Linked DNA regions of Homo sapiens: all the other regions are linked to region 3. Evidence: fine-mapped expression QTL. A gene starts in region 3. Each other region holds a variant in brackets. All regions are shown on one strand. Distances are between the middles of the regions. Region 1 overlaps CD53 (CD53 molecule). Region 2 overlaps CD53 (CD53 molecule). Region 3 holds the start of CD53 (CD53 molecule).

The links. PIP is the estimated chance that this variant, and not a neighbour inherited with it, causes the effect.
Region 1: its variant is the best candidate, but not a certain one, in a credible set for the expression of CD53 in whole blood (INTERVAL, PIP 0.59).
Region 2: its variant is the best candidate, but not a certain one, in a credible set for the expression of CD53 in whole blood (TOPMed, PIP 0.79).

The regions. Positions count from the first base shown.
Region 1 is chr1:110,890,983-110,895,285 of GRCh38, reverse strand. CD53 (CD53 molecule) reads right to left here. Exons shown (of 8, transcript NM_000560.4): 2 at 3,815-3,894; 3 at 2,753-2,941; 4 at 885-959; 5 at 231-326. The coding sequence starts at 3,877. It also overlaps a transcript of LRIF1 not described here. Among named protein-coding and RNA genes, the nearest start is that of CD53, 20 kb to the right of the region's middle. The variant G/A (reference allele first, on the strand shown) is at 1,548.
Region 2 is chr1:110,896,980-110,900,979 of GRCh38, reverse strand. It overlaps CD53 (CD53 molecule), which reads right to left. Exons shown (of 8, transcript NM_000560.4): 7 at 3,088-3,171; 8 at 1,058-1,856. The coding sequence ends at 1,785. It also overlaps a transcript of LRIF1 not described here. Among named protein-coding and RNA genes, the nearest start is that of CD53, 26 kb to the right of the region's middle. The variant G/A (reference allele first, on the strand shown) is at 1,773.
Region 3 is chr1:110,871,018-110,875,017 of GRCh38, reverse strand. CD53 (CD53 molecule) reads right to left here and starts at 1,870. Exons shown (of 8, transcript NM_000560.4): 1 at 1,770-1,870. It also overlaps a transcript of LRIF1 not described here. RefSeq lists enhancers at 348-397, 1,910-2,019, 2,620-2,669.

The DNA.
Region 1 (4,303 bases), 20 kb before region 3:
AAAATAAACCTATTCATGTTAGAAAAGGATGAAAGAGAGAATGTAGAGAACTTTGTACTAATCAGACTAATTACTGGGCTCCCATGTTTGTGATAGCCAAGGCATTATTCTGGGATTCAGGGATGTGGACCTTAGATTCTGAAACTTCCAGAAAAAGGAACTAGCCCCCAAGGATTTAGGCTTGAAAATGAAGTCTGGGCTGATCTGAAGAGGATTCCACCTGTACTCACAAATGACTGGATGGAGTCCCACGCTGCCTTGGTGCTATTGTCTGAGTGGTAACGGTGGATGCTGTCGGTCAGACCCTTAGCCACATACTCATTCAGCTGGGCAGGCACATTCCAGCAGAGGAGACATGGTAAAAAGCAGGTGAGTTCAAGGAATAAGGAATTTCCAGTATAGGTTAGTGGTTCCACTTGCGCTTCCCTTCCAAATGGTCTCCTCAGAACTAAGGGTGAGGGGAGGGTGTTTATCTATGGGCATACAGGCTGAGCATGAGGTGGCATTGAAGGAAGAAGTATTTAGTAGGCTTGCTTCCTTCTAGAGCTCTGGCTTTACAAGGGAGGAAAAGGAGCAATTAAAGCAAGGGCTATCCTTAGGCACTGAGGCAGACATTCTCTCCTGCCAAACACACAGAGGAAAGCAAGTAGAGGAAGAGACACTTGTTTTACTGCTCTTTCCAGGCACCCCTCAAGATACCACTCAGATACAATCTCTTTCATACAAATTTTCCCCCCAATTACAATTACTCTCTGTTTCCTCTATCCTTCCACTTCATTTCTATCTCTATTATAGAACTTATTCTGTAACTTTGTACCAACTTCTCCACTGCATACTCCCCACTTTCAGTATTAAGACAATAAGTTGTTGTCTTTATAACTTACCTTCTGTTCATATACAAAGAGCAGGATGGCCAAGGTCACCTCAGCAAGGAGGATAATCAGCAGCAGGATGAAGAACTGGGACAAAGCAGATACATTCTCACAGCACTGATCCCCATTCTCGTCCCACTCCCACTCAGCTCTGGGAGCATCCAGGGGCATTTGCACGAGTACAGGGTGTTCCTGTTCTGCCTCCTCAGGCCGTTGTAAGCCTTCTTTTGTTTTGTGAAAATATGTGTTCTTTTTCTACAATTAGACTCTAGAGGGCAGATCAACTGTCTTCTTTGCTCTCTCCTACCTGCTGTGCCTATCAGAGCACTACATGCATAATACATACACACCACCACCTGTTGAATAAGTTAAGCAATTTTGACATCTGCCTATTGAAGCAGTTAAGCAAAAGGTTGGTAAACTAGATCATTTGGGGCCTGGTCCTTTCTACAAGATCAGGGATACCTCTGGGTGGAGGACTGCTGGTAGTGGCTGAGAGGAGCCCTGTACAATGGTAGAAAGAAGGGTCCTAGCCATGGTTCTAACTCATATTTGTTTCCAGCTTTCGATGCTTACTCCTTTTATGCTAATAACACACAACAGAAAACATTTTCACTTATTCCTTCTCCTTCACCTTTTTTACCCCAACATTAATTTTGACTGCTTAAAACATTT[G/A]CCTTACCCCATGTCTGCTATCTTCCATCCTTTGCCATTAGTCTGACAACTATCTGAGAAGAGGGACTTTTTAAAAAATTCTTTCTCTTGGCTCCAGTTTAAGAGTTGACCCATACAGACTGGGCGCAGTGGCTTACGCCTATAATCCCAACACTTTGGGAGGCCGAGGCAGGTGGATCACCTAAAGTCGGGAGTTAGAGACCAGCTTGACCAATATGGAGAAACCCTGTCTCTACTAAAAATTCAGAATTAGCCGGACATGGTGGCGCATGACTGTAATCCCAGCTACTCGGGAGGCTGAGGCAGGAGAATGGCTTGAACCCGGGAGGCGGAGGCTGTGGTGAGCTGAGATCATGCCATTGCACTCCAGCCTGGGCAACAAGAGTGAAACTCCATCTCCAAAACAACAACAAGAAGAAAAAAACAAAACAAAAAACCACCACCAAAATGTTGAACCATAATGGAAAAAAGATTAACCAAATGATTTAAGGAAGAACCAATGTGATTAGAAACCCACGCCTATTGGTAGAGTGGCACTGTTACACCAAGCTCTGTTCTGGGAACACTACAGAAATGTAGAGCTCAGTGCTCTACAGGCACTGTGCTTACAGGCAAAACCTAAGCCTTAAGGTACTCCTCAGGATAGTACCTGATAGGGAACATGCAAAAGGCTGTAGCATCTCTCACATTAGACCTCAATGGCTGCAGCCAGAGCCCTCACCTAAGTTGGATCTCTCTACGGAGTATCTTGTGCAGACATGAGTTAAGGAAGCATCCTTTGGCATTTGGGGAGGAAAGAGCCTAGAAATTATTTTCCATTAGTTAGCGACTCTCAGTCAGAATCTGAAAGTACATAATAATAGCTAGCATGAGGAGGATTTTGGAAGATGGATGACACCTGATTTCATCCAGACATAAAGAAAAAATAAAATGCTATAAAGGGGAATTACAATAATGACAAAAGTCATTATTAGCAATATAAAAATGGCTACAAGGGGGATAGCAATGCCCTCTTTCACCTGTCCGTGGGACCCTAGTCATACATAATATACTATTGGTCTGGGCAGACTTGGCTGATCTGAGGTACCAATCTCATTTTCCTATGATCTTTCTGTGCCTATAAGTGATCTACCAAGAAACATCTTGCCTGGGATTTAGGCACCATCTCCCCGACTTGGGGCACCACATCTGCTGTAAGGACTCACCGACATAAGCAGACACTTGTTTTCCTTGATAGAGCCCATGCAGCCCAGGAAGGCAACTACCATGATAATAGAGCCCACGATGACAAACACATTGCCCAGCGTGAGGGAGGGGAGGTTATGGAAGAGCACTCCGAAGTTGTTGTGGATCAGCAGGTAGATCCCAAAGCCCAAAATGCAGCAGCCACAGATCTGAAAGGAAGAATCCCACAACATCCTGAAGCAAAATGTGGTTCTTGGGTATCTCCTCATATTCTCACTTCCTTGAGATCAGAATCACTTTATTTTTAACTGGCTCAATCAAGAGTCTCATGAACAATTTCTTTACCAAACTTTTCCATGCTTACATTGGAGAGGCAATCTCAGCTTTCTCATGTGGAGACCTACTCACAACTCTTCCTACCCATCTCCAGATACCAAGGAAAGATCACTTCTGTGAGCCACACAGTATCTTCACCATATATAGGTCTAACTTCTTTTTCCTTATCTTTTCAGTCGCTCACACATGGCTTTCTCTGTAGAAACCATGACCATGTAGAGAAGATGCCCTGCTTGAGGAAGCTCATCTTGCTAGGCAGAAAACTAGAGAAGCCAAACTTATAATAATCTTCTCATATACACAAGTACCAACCCATCCTATATCTGAAATTCAATTGCTGAATTTTATACAGTGAAACCTCCCTGGAAAGGGTGACTTTCCTTTCAATCACTTATTGTTTCAAGGAATCTAGAAAAAAAGACAAGAAAAACAGAGGCACTCAATATCCAGAGCACAGTCTCAGGTTTCTCACCTATATATGTTAGCTACGAGTAGTAGTAAACTAAAGCCCTCAGAGAGAAACAGCACCTCCATTAATAACTGCACTGGTACCTTTCAATTTTGCAGGTTTATTCTGTGGCAGGAAGAGGGGAAAAATTATTACTCTTTTGTTTCTAGGATGGTTGTGCTGGACATGACCCAAACACGCATGCATTTTACCCCACACCAGCCTCTTCAGTAGAGGAATGAGGAGAGCTTAGCTGGGTAAAGGTGAGCTAAACCGTGCTCAGAAGAGATACACTTACCCAAAAGAGCAAGTTGAAGAAAAACAGGACATACTTCAGCAGTTTCAAGCTACTCATGCCCATGCCGTGATATTCTTGCCCTAAGGAATAAGGAAGAAGAAAGTAAGTTACCTCACTCTGTAAGGTAGCCAGAGATCAGAGTGCACAAATGTTCAGGGATCTCTAGCATTACCTTGGGTTTGAGCTGTGGCTCTCCTCTGGAAAGTTTCCCCAAACTCTGCGCTTTCCTAGTTCTAAACTGAAATACCAACTGGCTCATCTTAGACATTCAGTTTTTGCCCAATTCGGCAAGCCAACAATGCTTAACATTGAATTAAGTATTGTAGAAGAAAATAGAGCCATTCTTAGAAGAGGATGAGTCACAGTGACAGAGACCAGGCCAGTGCTTTAGCTCTAACTGCAGCATTAGCAACTAGTGCCTGGGCACTTAAGCCCTTGAAGTCAGGGATGGACTGGTCAATCAGCCATCAAGAAAGCCAACAGCTTGAT
Region 2 (4,000 bases), 26 kb before region 3:
CTCTACATTTGGCTCCCTATTAGATATGGTCTTATTTTCTGCCTTACAAAGTGTGGTTATACGTAGATAATTAAATTTAGCTTATAGACAATTCAATTTAGCTTCTTTTTTTGACCAAACAAATATGGTGGGGTTGGCAACCTCTTAGATGACCTCCAGTGATCTCTATGTGCTACAGATTTATACCCTTGTCTATAATCTCCTTTTTTTTTTGTTTTTTTTTTTTTTTGAGTGTGAGCTGAACAATTCAACTCACTTTTTTAAAACAGTGTATGGCAGAACTGATGTGGTGGCACATCTGGGGTTATAAATAAAAACTGTGGCGTGGCTCATGCCTGTAATCCCAGCACTTTGGGAGGCTGAAGCAGGTGGATCACCAGAGGTCAGGAGTTCAAGACCAGCCTGGCCAACATGGTGAAACCCCATCTCTACTAAAAACACACAAAAAAATTAGTCAGGCATGGTGGCACACACCTGTGGTCCCAGTCAGGAGGCTGAAGCAGGAGAATCGCTTGAACTTGGGAGGCAGAGGTTGCAGTGAGCCGAGATTGTGCCACTGCACTCCAGCCTATGTGACAAAGCAAGTCTCCATCTCAAAACAACAACAACAAAAACAACAAACTGTGGCTTCTGTTTTGGGTGCCGAATCTCATGCCCTTTCTTGGATGTCTTTAAATGGGGGGAAGCCAGCTTCCATGTCATAAGGAAGCCCCGTGGAAAGGCACAAGTGGCAAAGATCTGAGGCTTGCCAACAGCGATGTGAGAGAGCCTGAAAGTAGATCCTCTTTCAGTTGAGCCTTAAGGTTACTGCAGCCCAGGCTGACATGTTGATTGCAGTTACATGAGAGACTGTGAACCAGAATCACCCAGCTAAGCTGCTCCTAGATTCCTGACCCACAAAAACCATGAGATAATAAATGTTTGTTGTCCTCAGCCACTAAATTTTGGAGTAATATTTTATGCAGCAGGAGACAATTAATACACCTGGTTTGGTGCATTAATCAGGGTAATCAGGCTGGGTCATGGAAGGAGTGTTTGATATATAGCAATGTTGTGATTGAGATAATAAACTTTTATTTATTGAAGAGTAAAATAGTACATTAACAAAATCTTATCTGATAGAGAGATAATACCAGAAGTCTTCTTACTGTGATTATCAGCTAAGTGACTGGTTGAAATCAGGATATAAATCACTGGATAGTTTTTTTCTGGAAAGACTTAGAACACATCAATAAGGCCCTCTAATAAAGAAATTGAAATGAGATCTTGCCCTTTGGAGAAAGAGAACTGTGTAATTCCTGTAGCCAGGGCACTTAGTCAAAGAGAAACAGAGGGTTGTGACAATGGTCCAGTGAGCCTGGCCCCAGAACTCCCTTCAACTAGTCTCTTGCTTGACTTTGGGGAGAAGACTGGGCATTATTTAGAGGCTGGAGACTAATTCGACAATGGGAAGATGCAAAAATTCATATCCTGGGTTCACCCTTTGATGTTGGGCCATTAAATCCAGTTTGTCTTTGCCTCTCTTGTCTAAAAGATGCTCAGATATTAGTTTCACCACTTTGAGAGACATGGCTGCTGCCGTCAGTGAGTGAAAGATTGTCTTGCTGCCTGAGATGGGATGTGCCTGGCCAACACCCACTTCTCTGGTTGTATAAGACAGGGACCTAAAAAGGGAAAGGATGGGAGGAGGATCATCCTGCAGTGATCATGTAGGGCTTCATGCTATAAATGGTTTTGCATTTCCGGAGATGAAACAAGTCTCTTCACCACAG[G/A]ACTACTGCAGATCATAGCCCTATGGTCTGGCTGGTTTTGTCAATCTGGCAGTTCAGGGTCAGTGCAAAGGACATCCCCAACACCTGTGAAAAGAGTTGGGAAAATTTGAAGTCTTCATAAGAAAAGCCATTTCTTTCACAATGCCTGGGATTGGCCTCTGAGAAAAAGAATGTATCCATTACACTGAAACCACCCTTCCAACCATTACTTTCAAGTCTCTCTCAGGAGCTCTTTCCTTTGGTTAAAGAATAGCAGTGAGGAGAGAAACGGGGTCAATGATGACAAGATAACAGGCTGTAAAGTACTGGAGCATGTTTTATCTTCTGAGGAAGTCACAGAAGCCTTGCTGCTAGGATGGTCATATTCTGCTCACTGAACACTGTGCAATGAGTTATCTCTATCCATGCTCTGTGCCTCCTTTGTTTCCAAACAGAGAAAAATCATTTTCTCTGAGCTTCCTGATTGAGTTTTAACTAATCTATGATATACCCAACACTTTGGGTAGAAAAATGTTAGAAATATCACATTATTTTTGTCCTTTTTTATTAAAAAGGACAAAAAACTACCCTCAATTCACCCATCACTTGTCAAACTAAGCACAGAAACAAAGAGGAAATTGATTACAATTTTCGTCATCAGCCCCTTAACATGCAAGATCAGGTTTTCAAATGAAATACTTTATCAATTCGTATTTTTCAGACCAGCTGAGGAGGGATCACAGTGGGATTCTGCTTGGTGGCTTTTTTGTTTGACTGTGAATCATGTGAATCACTCATATCTCTGAGGAATGAATTGACCAGAGAGATGTTCTTTTTTTTTTTTTTTTTCTGGAGACAGAGTCTCGCTCTGTCGCCCAGGCAGGAGTGCAGTGGCACGATCTTGACTCACTACAAGCTCCGCCTCCCAGGTTCACGCCATTCTCCTACCTTAGCCTCCCAAGTAGCTGGGACTACAGGCACCTGCCACTACGTCTGGTTAATTTTTTGTATTTTTAGTAGAGACGGGGTTTCACCATGTTAGCCAGGATGGTCTTGATCTCCTGACCTCGTGATCTGCCTGCCTCAGCCTCCCAAAGTGCTGGGATTACAGGCGTGAGCCACCACGCCCGGCCAAGAGATGTTCTTATAGCACATTTTCTATATACCTTAAAGCAAATTGTTAATTACATTATTTGCTACTTGGCTGGGGGAATTCATATATTAGTAAAAATAGCTAACATTTATTGTGTAAATACTGTGTACCTGGTATTATTCTGAAATCTTACCTGACTTAACTCATGTAATCCTCACAATAACCCTGTGGTTAAGCTCTTACCTCAATCACACATACACAGATGGTGATGATTCCGATATACAGGAAATTGGAATGAAACCACAGTCTTGCTTTCGCATAGCAACCCTAGAAGACATTTCAGTTACAAATGATACTACTCTATAATTCCACCATATCAAGAGGAAGTATTTGGAAGATACAGTGCTTTGCATTTTGCTTTATGTAATACAAAGAGGCTTAGGTATTATATTTTTATTTTCTTTGCGTGAATGAAGAAACAGGCATAAGGTGGGAAATATTAAACTACAGACTTTTCTGGTGGTGTTATCATTACAGTGGTAACTAATGTAGAAGTCCTAGATCCTTACCCGCTGAGTTAAACTAGCTTCTAAGAGGCAGGTCAGCAACCGACGTCCTACTGTCTTTGAACACTCAGTGCTGACCAGAGATTAACATAGGGCATGCAATACTAAAATTGGTTTGCATTTCACTTTCTGCTTCAACATTCAGTAAATCCATCATAGCCCTACCAAGTGCCAGGGCAGTTGCTGGTCAGTGGTTGTCCTAGTCTTTCTCCACAAACCTGAAAAACCCTGGAGATTTCCAAACCCCTTCAGGAGCAGATAACATGAGGAGACAAGACCTCAGGGATTCGGTCTAGTTGGAAGATAGTTGTGGCTTCTTCTCAGAGCCTATTCTGGAGGTCCAAATTAATTGGACAGGTTGTTTCAGTAGTTCCACTAACTCTGTCTCCCTCAACTCCTTACTCCTTCACCTATGATTCATTTCCCTAAGGGGCTGGATTCTGCCATCTCCAAGGAAGAAGAGCAGAGAAAGAGGGAGAGGGAGAAACTTTTCTATCTCAACCCTATACATTTCACTTTAACCATAAGGAGACCTACTTCTTGCTTAAGAAATATCTAGACACAACCCTCTCCTACTTTCACACAAAAGT
Region 3 (4,000 bases):
TTGCACTGTATTTGTATATTGCTGTGACTGTCATCCATAATAAACTCTACAACTCCTTTCAGATGATAATCTTTTCTGTTATCCTGTATCTCCAGCACCAAGTGCCATATCTGGCCATGGGGTAGGAGTGGGAAAGGAGAACCAGAGTCCGAGGGCCTCTGTGCAGTCAGAGGTCAATCAGAGGGCACAAAAAACCAAGGACCAACAGACTTTGTCCTTTCCAGTTTGTGCCTCTTGTCAGTGAACAAAGGTGAGGTCACTTAGGTGGTGGTAACCATAGCTGTGAAGGCATGAACTTGGAATCATTCCTCATGAATATAAAGGTACCCAATCCTTTCATTTAAAAATTAAGTGTTCTTAACTGGCCCACACAGGAAACATCACAGGAAATAATGTTTCAGTTCAGTCTTTGCTCCCATTCAACCACAATTTCAAAATAGTACAGATTCTCCTCAAGATTGAGAAAGCAAAACCTCTTTGTTTGTCCAGCAGCTGGGAGTTTGCTTTTTCTCAGCTTTCTTCCAAAGCACACGCATAGTATGATATCTCTTATCTCCCATGGGAGTTCCTTAAGAGTAGGACTGTTTGCTAGACAAATATTCTCCTTCTACCTTTTCATCTCCCTCCCCCACAATTCCCAAAGCACAGTGCCTGGCCTCAGGAGGCACCTACCACTTGATTATTAAGTGAATTTATTTAAAAGACTGCTTTTTATTTTTTAATACAAGGCTCAATAAACTCTGAGGTGTTTTGGGAATCCAGAGCCCTCTCCCCGTCCCCACCCCTCTTGGAAATCTAGAGCCCTCTGCCCTGTTCCCAATCCTCATACTTAGATGGGTGGGTGTAATCAAAGAGAACTTTCTCCTTTCTGCTCCAGGGCATAATCAAGTGAAATTCTCACAGGTCTTGGAAGAAGAAAGCTCTTACATAGAGTTTCCGATGGTGGTCACAGAGAGTCAGGACCGAAGCTCTGCTAACACTTTGCTGAGTCCATGCAACCTCAGTCATTAGTTACAGCACATGATTGGAAATTACTGCAGTATCAAGTTTTGGGGATTGCATTTTATACGTGCATTTCATGTGACATTTATCAGTGGTCATGTTTTGTACACCAAGGATAATTTGGGGAAATGCTGAGGATCCCAATGTGCTTCCTGCTCCTTAAAAGCCAACAATCTATGCATCCTTTAGAGATGTCTAGCTTTCACCTTTTAAAATACAGTTACTGAGCACATCCTGGTGTTTTGATTTTTAGCCACCTTTCTATTTAGTGGCTTTGAAGAACCACAGTGGGAGTCACTAAATTTACTTTTGAAATTTTCTCAAATGAAAAAGAACTGTGTCTTCTAGCTGTCTTTCTAAAGACAGCTCTGGCTGTGGGTTCTTTCCTCACTTTAAAATCACAAGACCAATTTTCTGAAGACCAGAGCACATAGGAAATCTCCCCAATGTCATCTCGCATAGAAAGCTCCAGGCATCAGGAATTACTACACAGAGTAATTCAAGCTCTGAAGCAATTAAGGCATGTGAATGCCTCGACTCAGAGATTTAGATAATGGGAACCTGATTAAGTAAAAGTATTTCTGGCCTGATTGCCTTTGGGGATGTTACTAGGATCTTGCTAATCTGTTTTACTTTGTGCACTAAATATTTGTGAAAGAGAAGTTGCCGGAGATTTTATGGTTACTAGAGAGGTATATGGAGACCCCTAAGAATACGCCCTACCCCACATTAGACAGCAAGCCAAGTTAAAACGTCATCAACCTTACCTTTTCCAGGCACCGTTCCTCAGTCCTTTCGGCAGAATTTAGTGATTATCCTTGAGGTGGCCGAGACAAGGCTGGTAACACAGATATCCGGGGCTATTTGTGTAAAAGGAGAAGTGAAGGGTGAAAAAATATGATCATGCTGTGACGACAGGAAGCCCAGATGAGAAGAAGGAGGAAGTGAGGCTGAGTCCGCCCTCTTTAGTCTCAGAGATTTAGTACTTTCCCAGTGGCTTTTTAGAAGCTTCCTCTCACAGCCCACCCTAAACTAGTTTTGTGAAACAAAAGAAAACTTCAAAACCAAGTTGGTTCAGGCACAGATCTGTGAGCAGTGGTGGATTCTAGGGTAATTTGGCAATGATTTTTGCTTAGAAAAGGACAGTGCTTCTCAATCAAGGTGGCATCTCAGAATTAACTGTGTATTTGTTCAAAAAGAAGTATGCCTGGCCCCACCACCAGTTTCCCATTCAGGTAGACAGACTGGAGGGGAACACAGGAACCAATATTTCTAAACATTTTCTAGGCCCGAGACTTTGGAATGTCTTTCTGAAGATTCTCTGCCCCCTCCTCATACTCCCTCTGTCTGGCTTCAGCCAGTCTCTAGACTTGAATTGGACACCATTTGCAGACTTCTCTGTCTCGAGAGCAAGACTGTCTTAAGGTGAGTCCCCAAGGCATAATCCCAGGGGCACTGGTAGAAATGATTTGGTTAGTACAGGAAACACCACATTTGGAGCCAAAGATCTGAGTTTCAGTTCCAGCTTTATCTCTTTTAGCTGTGAGATCTTGAGCAAGTCTCAATCTGTCAGCCTCAGTTTATTAATGGTAACACCTAATAATAATCCTACTGGTTACTGTTACATCCTTATTTATATACAAGAAAACAGGCGCTCAAAGAGGTTAGAAAATTTGCCCAAGCTCATACAACTAAGACATGTCAGAGGTAGGATTAAAATTCAAGGTCACAGAGAAGGCCTTTTGAGAAACACTGTGATCAATATATTTTGAAAAATGTGTTTCTGGTTTCACTATGCTGCATCACTGGAATTTTCTTAGATTGGGTCAAAGGAGTATGTGACAACCCAAATGTATCACTAGCTAACTATGAAACTTGGAAGCAATCACTGGGCCCCAATGTTTTCATCTTATAAATGAACAGATAGATGCACTCTGCGGTGCTGACTTGCGGGCATGCCTCTGGGAAAGCTAGCTGTCTCCCGCTTCCTTCACCCTGAGACATTCAGATCCAGAGTAATCTCCAGCCAGGGCTGTCTTGTGGGGAAAACTGAATTAAATGAAGGTAAAAAGGTCTTTACTGCAGAACTTGTCAGTCCTTAATATTCTCTAAGCAGGGGAAATAATATATAGATTTCTCCAAACTTATCTGAGCATGGAACTGTGTGGTGTGTGTGTGTGTGTGTGTGTGTGTGTGTGTGTAGTTTCTCTTGGGGAACAATTTTTCAGTGTAACTACACTTTAGGGAATGCTATTAAAAAGTCTCTGCACCTCGGCTGGAATCACTGACCCTCACTCAGAGCTGCTGCCATGCTTACAGGTCCCTGAAGTGGTGGGGCTGAGGAGAGGCTTCTGGCTGAACTCATATTTTCCTAATTATCTCACCCATTCTGATGGCTCTAATTACTATCTGTCTGTTCCAAAGATTCACAAATCTATATAGATGCCATGATCTCTCCTTTGAGCTCCACTCTCTCCCAGGCACCTCAAATCCAATATCCAACTTCAGTTTGATTAACTTGGCATCCCCACACTCAAGCCTGCTCCTCCCACCATGTCCACCATCCAGGAAAGGCCTGACTGGCCTTTCAGCCACGTTCATGAGAAACCAGGTGTCCTCTTAAGCTACTCTCTCTCCCACACCACCACCTATTATCAGCCACCAAGTCCTGTCAGTTATGCTTTTGCCTAAATATTTCTCAAACCAGACCACCTCTCTCCAACCCCATAGAAATTACATTAGTCTTTATCTTTTACCTGTGTTACAGGATCCCAGTGTCCTTCAAGACCACCTTGGATGTTTCTTCAGTCTGTCCTCAGGAAGAAGGGAGGAGAGCCTTCTAAAATGCAAATTTAATCACATGACTCCCCAGCTTAAAACTCTCAGCCGGCTATTTCTTCCCCGGCCCCACCCCCAAGATCTCCTCACACTGGGTAACACTGGATATGGAATTCCTTTTAGTTGCTTAAACAAATCAATCTAGTTCTGTCTCACGAGC